Linked DNA regions of Homo sapiens: regions 2, 3 and 4 are each linked to region 1. Evidence: fine-mapped expression QTL. A gene starts in region 1. Each other region holds a variant in brackets. All regions are shown on one strand. Distances are between the middles of the regions.

Region 1 (2,500 bases):
AATCAACCACCTCTTTAATGGGGAAAAGTGTAAATTCCATAGTGTAGCCATATAAGGCTTTTCGAGATCTGCCCAGACTCCTTGAGCCACTCTATATATACTTCACTCATTTAAAACTCAGCGACAATCCTACAAGTAGGTGAAATTATTATTCCCTCTTTACAGATAAGTAAAGGGGAATATAAGTAAATAACTTGCCCAAGACCACACGGTTGGTAAGTGGCCCTGCTTGACTTTAAATTTTGACAGTCTGATATATCCATAAACCAGATAAATCCATAATTTTAACCACAATATTATTCTGTGCCCGGTACAGTGTAGGTGCTCAATAAATGCTTGCTAGATGAGTAGTGTGGAAGAGCTTAGCTCTCCTTTTTCACCTGATCCCAAAAGAGGAGTGAATCCTAACCACCCTGTTTCTCTTAAGAGTCAAGTCAAGTAAGAGCTGATGACTGTTACTGGCATTGCCCGGGCGTCTAGTATTGCAGTATCCCCGCCCCTGTGAGGGGTGCAAAACCTTTTCTGATTTCATTTCTTTGGTGGTGGGGATCGGACTGGGGAGGAATGAGGGGTCGCAGAACACAGGCTGCCCGCTGGGCCCGGGGGCTGCGGGGAGGGACGGCTCTCGTGCGCTGAGTAGTTGACTCGCCCACTGCAGACCTCAGAAGCCTCACGACCCGGACCCCGGGAGCCCCAGCCCCGCGCCCTCAGCCCCGCGTCCAGGACCTGATCCTGGATTGCCAGGGGCCCTCCTGGGAAGACGGGGCCACTCCGGGCCCACTCACCTCGTCCCGGCACTGCTTCTGGCACATCTGGCAATACCAGCGTAGCTTCTGCAGCCCCTTGGACTTGATCCTGTTGGCGATAGCCTTGGGAGTAAGAAAATCCGACTTCCCCATGGCGACCACGGCAGCGATCACTTTCTGGACCCCAGTACTCAGCCAGCCGGAAACGGAACCGGGCTGGCGGCGGTGGGCGGGACAAATCCCAGCTGAGAGGCGGAAGGAGGTGGGGCCTGGGAAGACTGGGTTGCAACGGTCGCGAGACTCCCCTCGCCGTAGCGCGAAGAAACGAGACTGAAGAAGAGAGCAAGGTGGGAGGGGCGCGCTGGGGAGCTTCGGCGCATGCGCGCTGAGGCCTGCCTGACCGACCTTCAGCAGGGCTGTGGCTACCATGTTCTCTCGCGCGGGTGTCGCTGGGCTGTCGGCCTGGACCTTGCAGCCGCAATGGTATGGCAGCTTGCGGGAAGATCGGCAGGACCGCAAGGGATGGAAGAGCTTGGGCACGGGGCAGGGAGGAGGAGATGGGCGCGGGGGCAGATGTGGGGTCGCAGGGCCTAGCTGGGCCCCTGGCCCGTCGGAGGCGCCGGGTAGCGGGGGCTGCAGGAAGCGGCTCTGAGGTCGGGCAAGGTGTGCGCAGGGCCGGGCTCCGGCGGAGCAAGGTCCCGCCCGGTTCCCTGAGGTCGGAGGGCCACCTGGGACCTCGGGACTGCGGCCTGAGTCCAAATTGACGTCTGGGCGGTCTTGAGTTCCCTCAGCTAATCAGCACTTCCTGAGCTTCCACTTCCACTGCAAGCCAGGCCCCCAGTCTCAGGGCCTGCAAGGTGACGGGAGCCTGAGCAATAGCCCAGGGGAAGGTTAAGTCGTGCTTTTTGTCCTTGACGCCCTTTGAAACCCTGTAGTGCTGGACAGAGTGACCCTTTAAGATTCGATCGAGTCAGAGAGCGCGGCCGTCGAGCACCTCCCGTGTTGCAGACGCTTTGCTGGGTGCTGCAACAGCAAAGGCGAACATCCTAGATGCCTCTGAGGGTGGTTTTGGTGCAGAAGGGACCGTACAGATCTGTCTGAGGGCGGGGAAGGGAAGGACACCTAGCACTACCTTGAAACCACTTGCTGAAACCGTAACCCTGCAAGGTCATGAAATTGCCCCCAGGTCCTGGGGGAGGAGTTCGGTGGGCTTTTAAGTGGCATTTGTTAACTGACATGCAACTAAAGGGTGCCACGAGCCTCGAGAATTTTAAACATTAGTTCCGGGTAGGGGGACCTGGGCTGGGGGAAGTGCATATTAGAAGGCCCGGGAATGGGCAGGTAAAAGTTGGTTTGTGGGTGGTGCTGTTCAGTTTTGAAGCTTGACGGAATCTGGAAGAATTCCAGACACGCTGCTAAGGGGATTCTAGGCTGTGTCGTAGCAATTCCCTGCTCTTAACAGTGTGGAGGATTTCTAAGGCGCTACAGTGCTAAACTAGATTTTCGTATCCTAATTTATATGAAGGGACCATAAAGCATTAGTTGAAATAAATAGGTTTTTCATTAAGCAAATAACTGATAGTAATATACGAGATTTTCAGAATGATATCTGATGTGAATTAGCCACATAAAATTTTTGGTGGCTTGGCCTTGGAAGTCAGATTTTTTTTTCTCTAATATGGAAAAAGAACATTCATGGGAATTAAAAGGTCACTGTAGTTGAATTCTCAGTTGTATAGATTGTCCCACTTGTT
Region 2 (2,500 bases), 70 kb after region 1:
CATGTAGCCAACTGATTCTCAGAGAATGCTTTTGTTAATTTTCCCAACTTTCATGTCCGTAAGCAAACCACTGTTACAACTGACAGATGAATATAGTTCCAACGTGAATGTTGGTTGATATTTTCCTTTATGTTAATGAGGAAGACAAAAGTGAAACAACACATACGAATGTCAAAACCTCCCTCCTTGCTTAATGATATGAGTGACTTTTTTGCTGAATTGGATACTAGTTTCTGAATACTGGAAGAATATTTCCTCAGCTGTTTGTGTTCTTCACAATGGAACAGCCACAGCTCACTTATAAATGTAATCTACATTTTCAACATTTCTGAAACTTTGCCTTCCCTATCACAGGTACATAGTTTTATCCGATTAGCAAGTTAGAGCAGTTTCTTCCCACTGCCCCCTTAAACAGTCTGTCCGGGAGAAAGTTCTCTGGAGCTGGAGGAGAAGTTGGCAGGACGCCTACAGAGTAGCCATGGGTACCCCCAGAGAGGAAGGGAATTGGTGCCACACAGTCTTCGGAGTGTGGAGGTGGACACTGGGTAGTGTATCATTTGTGGATGTCACAAGCCTCTACTCAGACTTGTTCTAATGTTTTAAAGGGCATTTTGATTTTATGTTGCTTGCATTCTTCATCCTGTTTGTGAGTTATTTCATGAAAGGGTAATTGTATTTTGATTTGAGGGAAATAATGACTTTTTTCTTTCACACGGGTATAAATATCTAAGAAAAGCTCTTAGCTTTCTGTCAGCTTTTTTATGTGATTATTTACCTCAGTATCTTAAGTGATGTTTTTGTTAAGAAAGAAAAAGGCAGGGGAAAATTAGAGAAGTTATGAAAGTACTATTAGCTTTCTAAATTCATTGGGAAGAAACTCTCTTGATTTTCAGCTATATCACACCCCAGGGTTCTTTTCAACATTTCTGATTTTTTTTTTTTTTTTCTGCTAACCTTAGGGATTTCTCAGAAACTTTGCCAGCTGAATTATCTGGGGGAGGTAGGAGTAGGGGAGAGTGGAATTTGAGGATTTATGGAGTTGACAGCTTACAAAGAGGTTT[G/A]AACGGCCTCAGTAGAATATTAACATTTGGGCTCTGTTTTGTTACAAATAGGGACATGAAATCATATTGCTTCCTCTTATATCCCATAGTAAAAGAACTATGGGATGTAGTTCAAAATATATAATCAAAATAACGATTGGCCTGGCTGTTAAGAATCACTGTCTTTTCCCAGAGAATTTTTGTGATAGAATATAAGATCCTCCTCTTTATTCTAAAGCCACTGGTCTGCAGGTCATCAAAGAAGTGAGTGATGTTACAAGCAATTGCCAGTAATATTGTATCATTTGGACTTGGATTCTGGTTCTGTTCCTGAATTGTATGTTTAGTTTTTCTTCCTGGCGCTTGATCCTTTAGAACCTCCTGGATGATACAATCGTTTATGTCAGCTAGGCTACAATTATGATCATTAGCAGGGGTTGTTCTTGCATCTATACTTAACTGTTTTTTCACTAGTTCCGGATCTTACTGATTAGGTACTTTCTGAACTGGGAGGCAGAAAAATGTCATTGATTGGCAAGTTCGTATCTGTGTCATGTTGAAAATTGTCTTAGATTATTAACTAAGTTCAGTCTTTTTGTGTGTTCTGCCTGTCAATATATCTACTGTTAATGAGAACTTATTTTAGGATTGCAGTGAGTTTAATGTGTATAACATGCTTAGAACCGTGGCCGGGACATATTCACATGCTTAGCACATGTTAGCAGCTATGAATTATTTTAATGTCAACATTATCATCATCAGATTTCACTGGTACATTATAGGCTCTGTGTGTGTGTGTGTGTGTGTGCGCGCGCCTGCATGTCACTGAATGTACGTGTGAGTGTGCGTGTGTGCATATGAACATGTGAATGTATCCTCCTCCATTACTGCTGGCCTCTTCAGCGTCTTCTGGGCTCTATTCATATGTCATCTTGTCGAGGCCTTTCTAGAACACCTTATTGAAAAGTGTGGTGGCTCACGCCTGTAATCCCAGCACTTTGGGAGGCTGAGGCGGGCAGATCACGAGGTCAGGAGATCGAGACCATCCTGGCTAACACGGTGAAACCCCGTCTCTACTAAAAATACAAAAAATTAGCTGGGCGTGTGGTGGGCACCTGTAGTCCCAGTTACTCGGGAGGCTGAGGCAGGAGAATGGCGTGAACCCAGGAGGCGGATCTTGCAGTGAGCTGAGATCATGCCATTGCACTCCAGCCTGGGCGACAGAGTGAGACTCCATCTCAATAAATAAATAAATAAATAAATAAATAAATAAATAAATAAATAAATAAATAAATAAAAGAGAAGTGTGATGCCTCTTCTACATATACACATCCTGCCTTCAGATCCTGCCATGTGGATTCTGAGTTTCAGGAGGGCAGCGGGGATTTCTGAAATCATCTGACATGGGCCTTTTCTTCAGTCCATTCCAGATTGGGGGAGAATAGTAGGGACCCATATTC
Region 3 (2,762 bases), 24 kb after region 1:
TGTTCACTTCTAGTTACTCTCTTCAAAGAGTGGCTTCACTGAGACATCATCCACATGCCATGAAATTCACCCTTCTAAATTCTACCACTCAGTGGTTTTTCATATATTCAGAGTTGTGCTCTAATCCACTCTCTATATCATTGCAAGATGAATTGTGCTAAAAGGCATTACTGAAATATGACTAACTGCTAGGTACTATTTACTAGTGAATGAGACGAACACAGATCCTGCCTCTACCCCCGCAAAGTATACAGCAAAGAATGGAATGATTTTAGTTTCGGACATCCCTCAAACATTAATTACATTTGAGTGATATATTGGACATCCAAGCAGACATTAGTCATTAGATGCAGTTAGCTACGCTAGTATAGCACTCAGGAACAATCCAAGATAAAGTGTTATATTAAGGAGTCATCTTTACACAGCTAATGATGAAATCACTGAGGTGAATCCTATGAAAAGAGAACACTGTAAAAGCAGACAAAAGCTGCCAGGCGTAGTGGCTCATGCCTGTAATCCCAGCAGTTTGGGAGGCCGAGGTGGGCAAATTGCTTGAGCCCAGCGGTTTGAGACTAGCCTCGGCCACATAGCAAAACCCATCTCTACAAAAAAGACAAAAATGAGCCAGGCATGGTGACATGTGCCTGTGGTCCCAGCTACTCAGGAGCCTGAGGTAGAAAGATTGCTTGAACCTGGGAGGTCGAGGCTGCAGTGAGCTGTGACCAGGCATGATGGTGCATGCCTGTAATCCCAGCTTTTTGGGAGGCTGAGGCAGGAGAATCACTTGAACCTGCGAGGCAGAGGTTGCAGTGAGCTGAGATCGTACCACTTCACTCCAGCTTGGGTGACAGAGCAAGACTCTGTCTCAACAAAACAAGCAAACAAACAAAAAAAGTAATAAAAGGCAAAGACATTGCAGGATAAGTCAAATCTTTGATATTGAAGCCAGGTTTCTCACTTTGGGAGAGACAGGATATGCAAATAGGACATGGGAGGAGAAAAGGGATATGTAATTTTAGACTTGAATTAGAGGCATCTGTGTGTACTTTGCACTTCAAAAGTACACATATTGCTGGGTGCAGTGGGTCACGCCTGTAATCCCAGCACTTTAGGAGGCCGAGGTGGGCGGATCACCTGAGGTCAGGAGTTAGAGACCAGCCTGGCCAACATGGTGAAACCCCATCTGTACTAAAAATACAAAAAATTAGCCGGGCAAGGTCGTGCACCTGTAATCCCAGCTACTCGGGAGACTGAGGCAGGAGAATCGCTTGAACACGGGAGGCAGAGGTTGCGGTGAGCCGAGACCAGCCATTGCACTCCAGCCTGGGTGACAGAGCAAGACTCCGTCTCAAAAAAAAAAAAGATACATATTTTTTAGTTCTTTCCACTACAAGGGCCCTGAAGCAATGATTTCCCTGTAGTAATGAAGGTCAGCTAGCACACGTCTGGGTTCTAAATAATATTCCTTTCTAAGAAGAACCAGGGCTCCTCAGAGAGATGTCTACTTCCAAGCTTAGAGCAAGAGAAGCACAAGGTGAGCCTGGAAAATCTAGTGGCACCAAATAGCAAGTCCTCCATGAATGATGGTGACACAGTACAAGAATACAGTGGCC[G/A]GCTGGAAAGGGCTCCCACTGGCCAAATACGGGACAATTTAAGCAGCAAGAGAATCACGAAGGTAATGGATCATGACACACCAGCTAAAGAAAAGAATCCGTGCTGGGTGCAGTGGCTCATGCCTTGTAATCCCAAAACTTTGAGAGGCCAAGGCAGGTGGGAGTTACAGACCAGCCCGGCCAACATGGTGAAACCCCATCTCTACTAAAAAGACAAAAATTAGCCAGGTGTGGTGGTGCACGCCTATAATCCCAGCTACTTGGGAGGCTGAGACAGGAGAATCGCTTGAACCCGAGAGGCGGAGGTTGCAGTGAGCCAAGATCTCGCCATTGCACTCCAGCCTGGGCAACAAGAGCAAAACTCCGTCTCAAAAAATAAATAAATAAATAAATAAAATGTAAAGCCATAAAAGGCATTTGGGGACAATGGGAAAATCTGAACACGCACTTTATTTTGTGGGATATTATTGTGTCAATCTTAGTTTGCTGAGTGTGATCATGGTATTATGGGGAGGTGGGAGCTGTGATGCACCATCCAGATCCCCCTTCAGAAGGACCTTCCACTGGGAATGGTGGAAGCACACAGCCCCCAGCTGCCAACCCTCGTTGGAATTGCCTCAGCTGGAGATCACCTTGCCCAAGGTCATGGCCCCCTCCGGAAGCACCTACATCCAGTGTCTGATCAGTATGAGAGTATAAAGACCCCCTGCCTGGCTCAGGACACTGCAAAGGGCCATTCCAGCCTTACAGCTCTCTGTGGGCTTGACTGAGGCCTTTGTGAGCTGGAGCCCAATGTCTCCCTATCCCAGTCCTGCTCTCTCCCCTTTCCCGTCCCCCCCTTTCCCATCCCCCTTCCTCTCCCTTCCACCTTTCCTCCTCAACCTCTCCCCATCCCTTCCCCTCCCCAAGCCCCTCCCTTCTCAACACTGCCCTTCCCTAGTCCTGCTTCCTGCCTGCCCTCCTCTTCTCTCTGCCAGGCGGTGACCCCAAGAGCCCTCCTCTGAGGTTAATCTTCATCTCAGAGACAGCCTCCTGGGGAGTCCAGCTTGGGACATTTGGTGCCGGAGAGGTCTGAAAGAGCAGATGCAAGATGGGATTTTGGAGCTGGATTCCCCCACTGGCTGGCGGTGAGGACTTCAGTATGGGTGG
Region 4 (2,762 bases), 40 kb after region 1:
CACTTTTTATCTAACACATGTGGATTAAGAAGGAAAAATATTGCTGATTTGTAATATATGCATATGGTTTATAAGGATGCAGTAAGTGGTAGGCAGTACAGTAAGATGCTTGTCAAAACGTTCTCCTCTTCATAAGAAAAGGATATAAAATGCAATTCTTTGGTTACCATTTAAAAATATAACCATACAAGACCATTTCTTGTCATTTACAATCTGAAATATTTTTTTTTCATGGGTACAGCATGTTAGAAAGTTCCTGGTATTCTGATTAGTGGTGCAAAGTGAGGTACAGAGGTGAACCCCTTTGATAATGATGCTGTTCACCATGCTCTTTATTTTCCTTTTATTTCCTTAAGAGCCACAGACAGGCCAGACTTTGGTCTTAAAATATTATTAGCAAGGTCCTTCCATGGGGTTCCCTCTTATCAGCCACTCAGCTTGGTTCATGTCAAAAAAGCCTGTGAAAGTCTCCCTCCACAGCAGCTGGAGCTGGCGAGTGTGCACACATAGAAGGCCTGAAGGGGCAGCAGGCTGTGAGAGGCACAGCGTGGACCTCACGGCATCACTGAGACATGACTCAGCGAGTCACTGAGTTTCTGGTCTTCCCAAGTCACTTTACCTTTCTGAACTTTATATTCATCTGTAAAATAAGTGTAATAACACCTACCACATTGGGGAAATGGAGAATCAAGTAATTTTTTTTTGTTAACACATTTATATAAAATTGGACAGTGTTTAACATATAAAATACATAACAGTGGGCCAGGTGTGATGGCTTATGCACTTTGGGAGGCTGAAGCTTGAGCCCAGGAGTTTGATACCAGCCTGGGCAACGTCATGAGACCTCATCTCTACTAAAAATAAAAAACTTGGCTGGGCGCAGTGGCTCACGCCTGTAATCCCAGCACTTTGGGAGGCGGAGACGGGCGGATCACGAGGTCAGGAGATCGAGACCATCCTGGCTAACACAGTGAAACCCCGTCTCTACTAAAGATACAAATATTAGCTGGGCGTGGTGGCGGGTGCCTGTAGTCCCAGCTACTCGGGAGGCTGAGGCAGGAGAATGGCGTGAACAGAGGAGGTGGAGCTTGCAGTGAGCCGAGATTGTGCCACTGTACTCCAGCCTGGGTGACGGAGCGAGACTCTGTCTCAAAAAAAAAAAAAAAAACAAAAACAAAAACTTAGCTGGGCATGGTGGTGCACGCTTGTAGTCCCAGCTATC[A/G]GAGTCTGTGGTGGGAGGATCAGTTGAGCCCAGGGGTCAAGGCTGCAGTGAGCTATGATCACACCACAGCACTCCAGCCTGAGTGACAGCGAGACCCTGTCTCAAAAAAAAATAAAACACATGACAGCGAATATTAGTTCTCGTCCCCTTTTTCTTTTCTTGCTCTTAAATAATTTACTTTTGAATTGAAATACAATATACATTAGTGAAGTCACGCTATAAGGGGAATCGGTGTCAAGCTGCATTCAGTGGCACACCCATAGTCCTAGCTACTTGGAAGGCCAAGGCAGGAAGATCGCTTGAGCCCAGGAGTTTGAGGCTGTAGTGCGCAATGATTGAGCCTGTGAATGCCCACTGCACTTCAGCCTGGGCAACATAGCAGGACCCTGTCTCTGAAAAAAAGAGACGAATCAATGTAAAGTAGTGTTACCATCACGTGCTGAGGATCTGAGGGAACAGACTTACTAGCTGGGCTGGATAGGTACTTGACTGAGGAGCTGTGTGATTATCCGCAGTGTGAAGATGACAGATGAGGAGATGATGTGGAAGGAGTTATTGCCTGCTTTATCTGATTATATGTTTAGAAGTGAGACCTCTTTGAAAATATTTTATACATGCATATTTTTGCTTGGACTGTTACAGTTCTGATGGCTGGTACCCAGTGTGTTTTATCCAAGAACATTCTCTCCCCAGCTTGCCATACATATTTTCAGATTCACACCAATACCATATTTTTTTGCTTCCTATTTTATTGTGCTGAGGAATGTCTGAAAATAGTACAGCGTACTATGCCAAAGTCATTGTTGGTTCTCACAGTGTGGTCTCTAGATCACTGGTCAATGGGGGTCTTCTGGGGGGGTCTGTTGATTGGTTCAAAATATTTGCATAAGAAAGAAATATAGGCTGGGCGCAGTGGCTCACACCTGTAATCCCAGCACTTTGGGAGGCCGAGGTGGGCGGATCACTTGAGGTCAGGAGTTCAAGACGAGCCTGGCCAACATGGTGAAACCCTGCCTCTACTGAAAATACAAAAATTAGCTGGGTGTGGTGGTGCCTGTAGTCCCAGCTACTCGGGAGGCTGAGATGGGAGAATCACTTGAATCCGGGAGGCAGAGGTTGCAGTCAGCCGAGATCGTGCCACTGCACTCCAGCCTGGGTGACAGAGTGAGACTCCGTCTCAAAAAAAAAAAAAAAAAAAAAAAAAAAAGGAATATAAACCATGTACCCTGACTTATTGCAGGAAACTTACCAAGCTCAACTTAAACTTGGTAAAGATACTGTGAGGTTGCCACTTTTAGAGTTTCTATTTTTTAAAATTTAAAATAGACTATTTTTTAGAACAGTTTTGATTTACAGAAAAAATTGAGAAGTTAGTTTGGAGAGTTCACTCACATCTGAACCATTTCTTCTGTTATTAACCTTTTACGTGACTATGGTACGTGTATCACAATTAATGAACAATATTGACATGTTATTATTAAGTGACGCCCGCACTGTATTGACATTCCTTAGTTTTTACTGGATGTCCTTTTTCTGTTTC

Alleles and levels. Positions count from the first base shown, and alleles are read on the strand shown. Sizes are in standard deviations (SD) of each study's normalised expression. Not every link is listed here.
As copies of G replace A in region 2, the expression in subcutaneous fat of the gene that starts at base 1,143 in region 1 goes up (small effect, 0.18 SD a copy in GTEx).
For the expression in atrial appendage of the gene that starts at base 1,143 in region 1, allele G in region 4 goes with a lower level than allele A (small effect, 0.16 SD a copy in GTEx).

Evidence for each region. PIP is the estimated chance that this variant, and not a neighbour inherited with it, causes the effect. A credible set is the group of variants that fine-mapping cannot tell apart.
Region 2: its variant is the best candidate, but not a certain one, in a credible set for the expression of ATP5F1C in subcutaneous fat (GTEx, PIP 0.66).
Region 3: its variant is the best candidate, but not a certain one, in a credible set for the expression of ATP5F1C in whole blood (INTERVAL, PIP 0.61).
Region 4: its variant is the best candidate, but not a certain one, in a credible set for the expression of ATP5F1C in atrial appendage (GTEx, PIP 0.64).

Annotation. Positions count from the first base shown.
Region 1 is chr10:7,787,035-7,789,534 of GRCh38, forward strand. ATP5F1C (ATP synthase F1 subunit gamma) reads left to right here and starts at 1,143. Exons shown (of 10, transcript NM_001001973.3): 1 at 1,143-1,229. The coding sequence starts at 1,174. KIN (Kin17 DNA and RNA binding protein) reads right to left here and starts at 959. Exons shown (of 13, transcript NM_012311.4): 1 at 786-959. The coding sequence starts at 899. RefSeq lists enhancers at 912-1,231, 1,684-2,227.
Region 2 is chr10:7,856,981-7,859,480 of GRCh38, forward strand. The region is part of intron 2 of TAF3 (TATA-box binding protein associated factor 3); the gene reads left to right. Among named protein-coding and RNA genes, the nearest start is that of TAF3, 40 kb to the left of the region's middle. The variant G/A (reference allele first, on the strand shown) is at 1,062.
Region 3 is chr10:7,810,874-7,813,635 of GRCh38, forward strand. All of the region lies in intron 1 of LOC105376392 (a long non-coding RNA gene), which reads right to left. Among named protein-coding and RNA genes, the nearest start is that of TAF3, 6.2 kb to the right of the region's middle. The variant G/A (reference allele first, on the strand shown) is at 1,614.
Region 4 is chr10:7,826,629-7,829,390 of GRCh38, forward strand. All of the region lies in intron 2 of TAF3 (TATA-box binding protein associated factor 3), which reads left to right. Among named protein-coding and RNA genes, the nearest start is that of TAF3, 9.5 kb to the left of the region's middle. The variant A/G (reference allele first, on the strand shown) is at 1,223.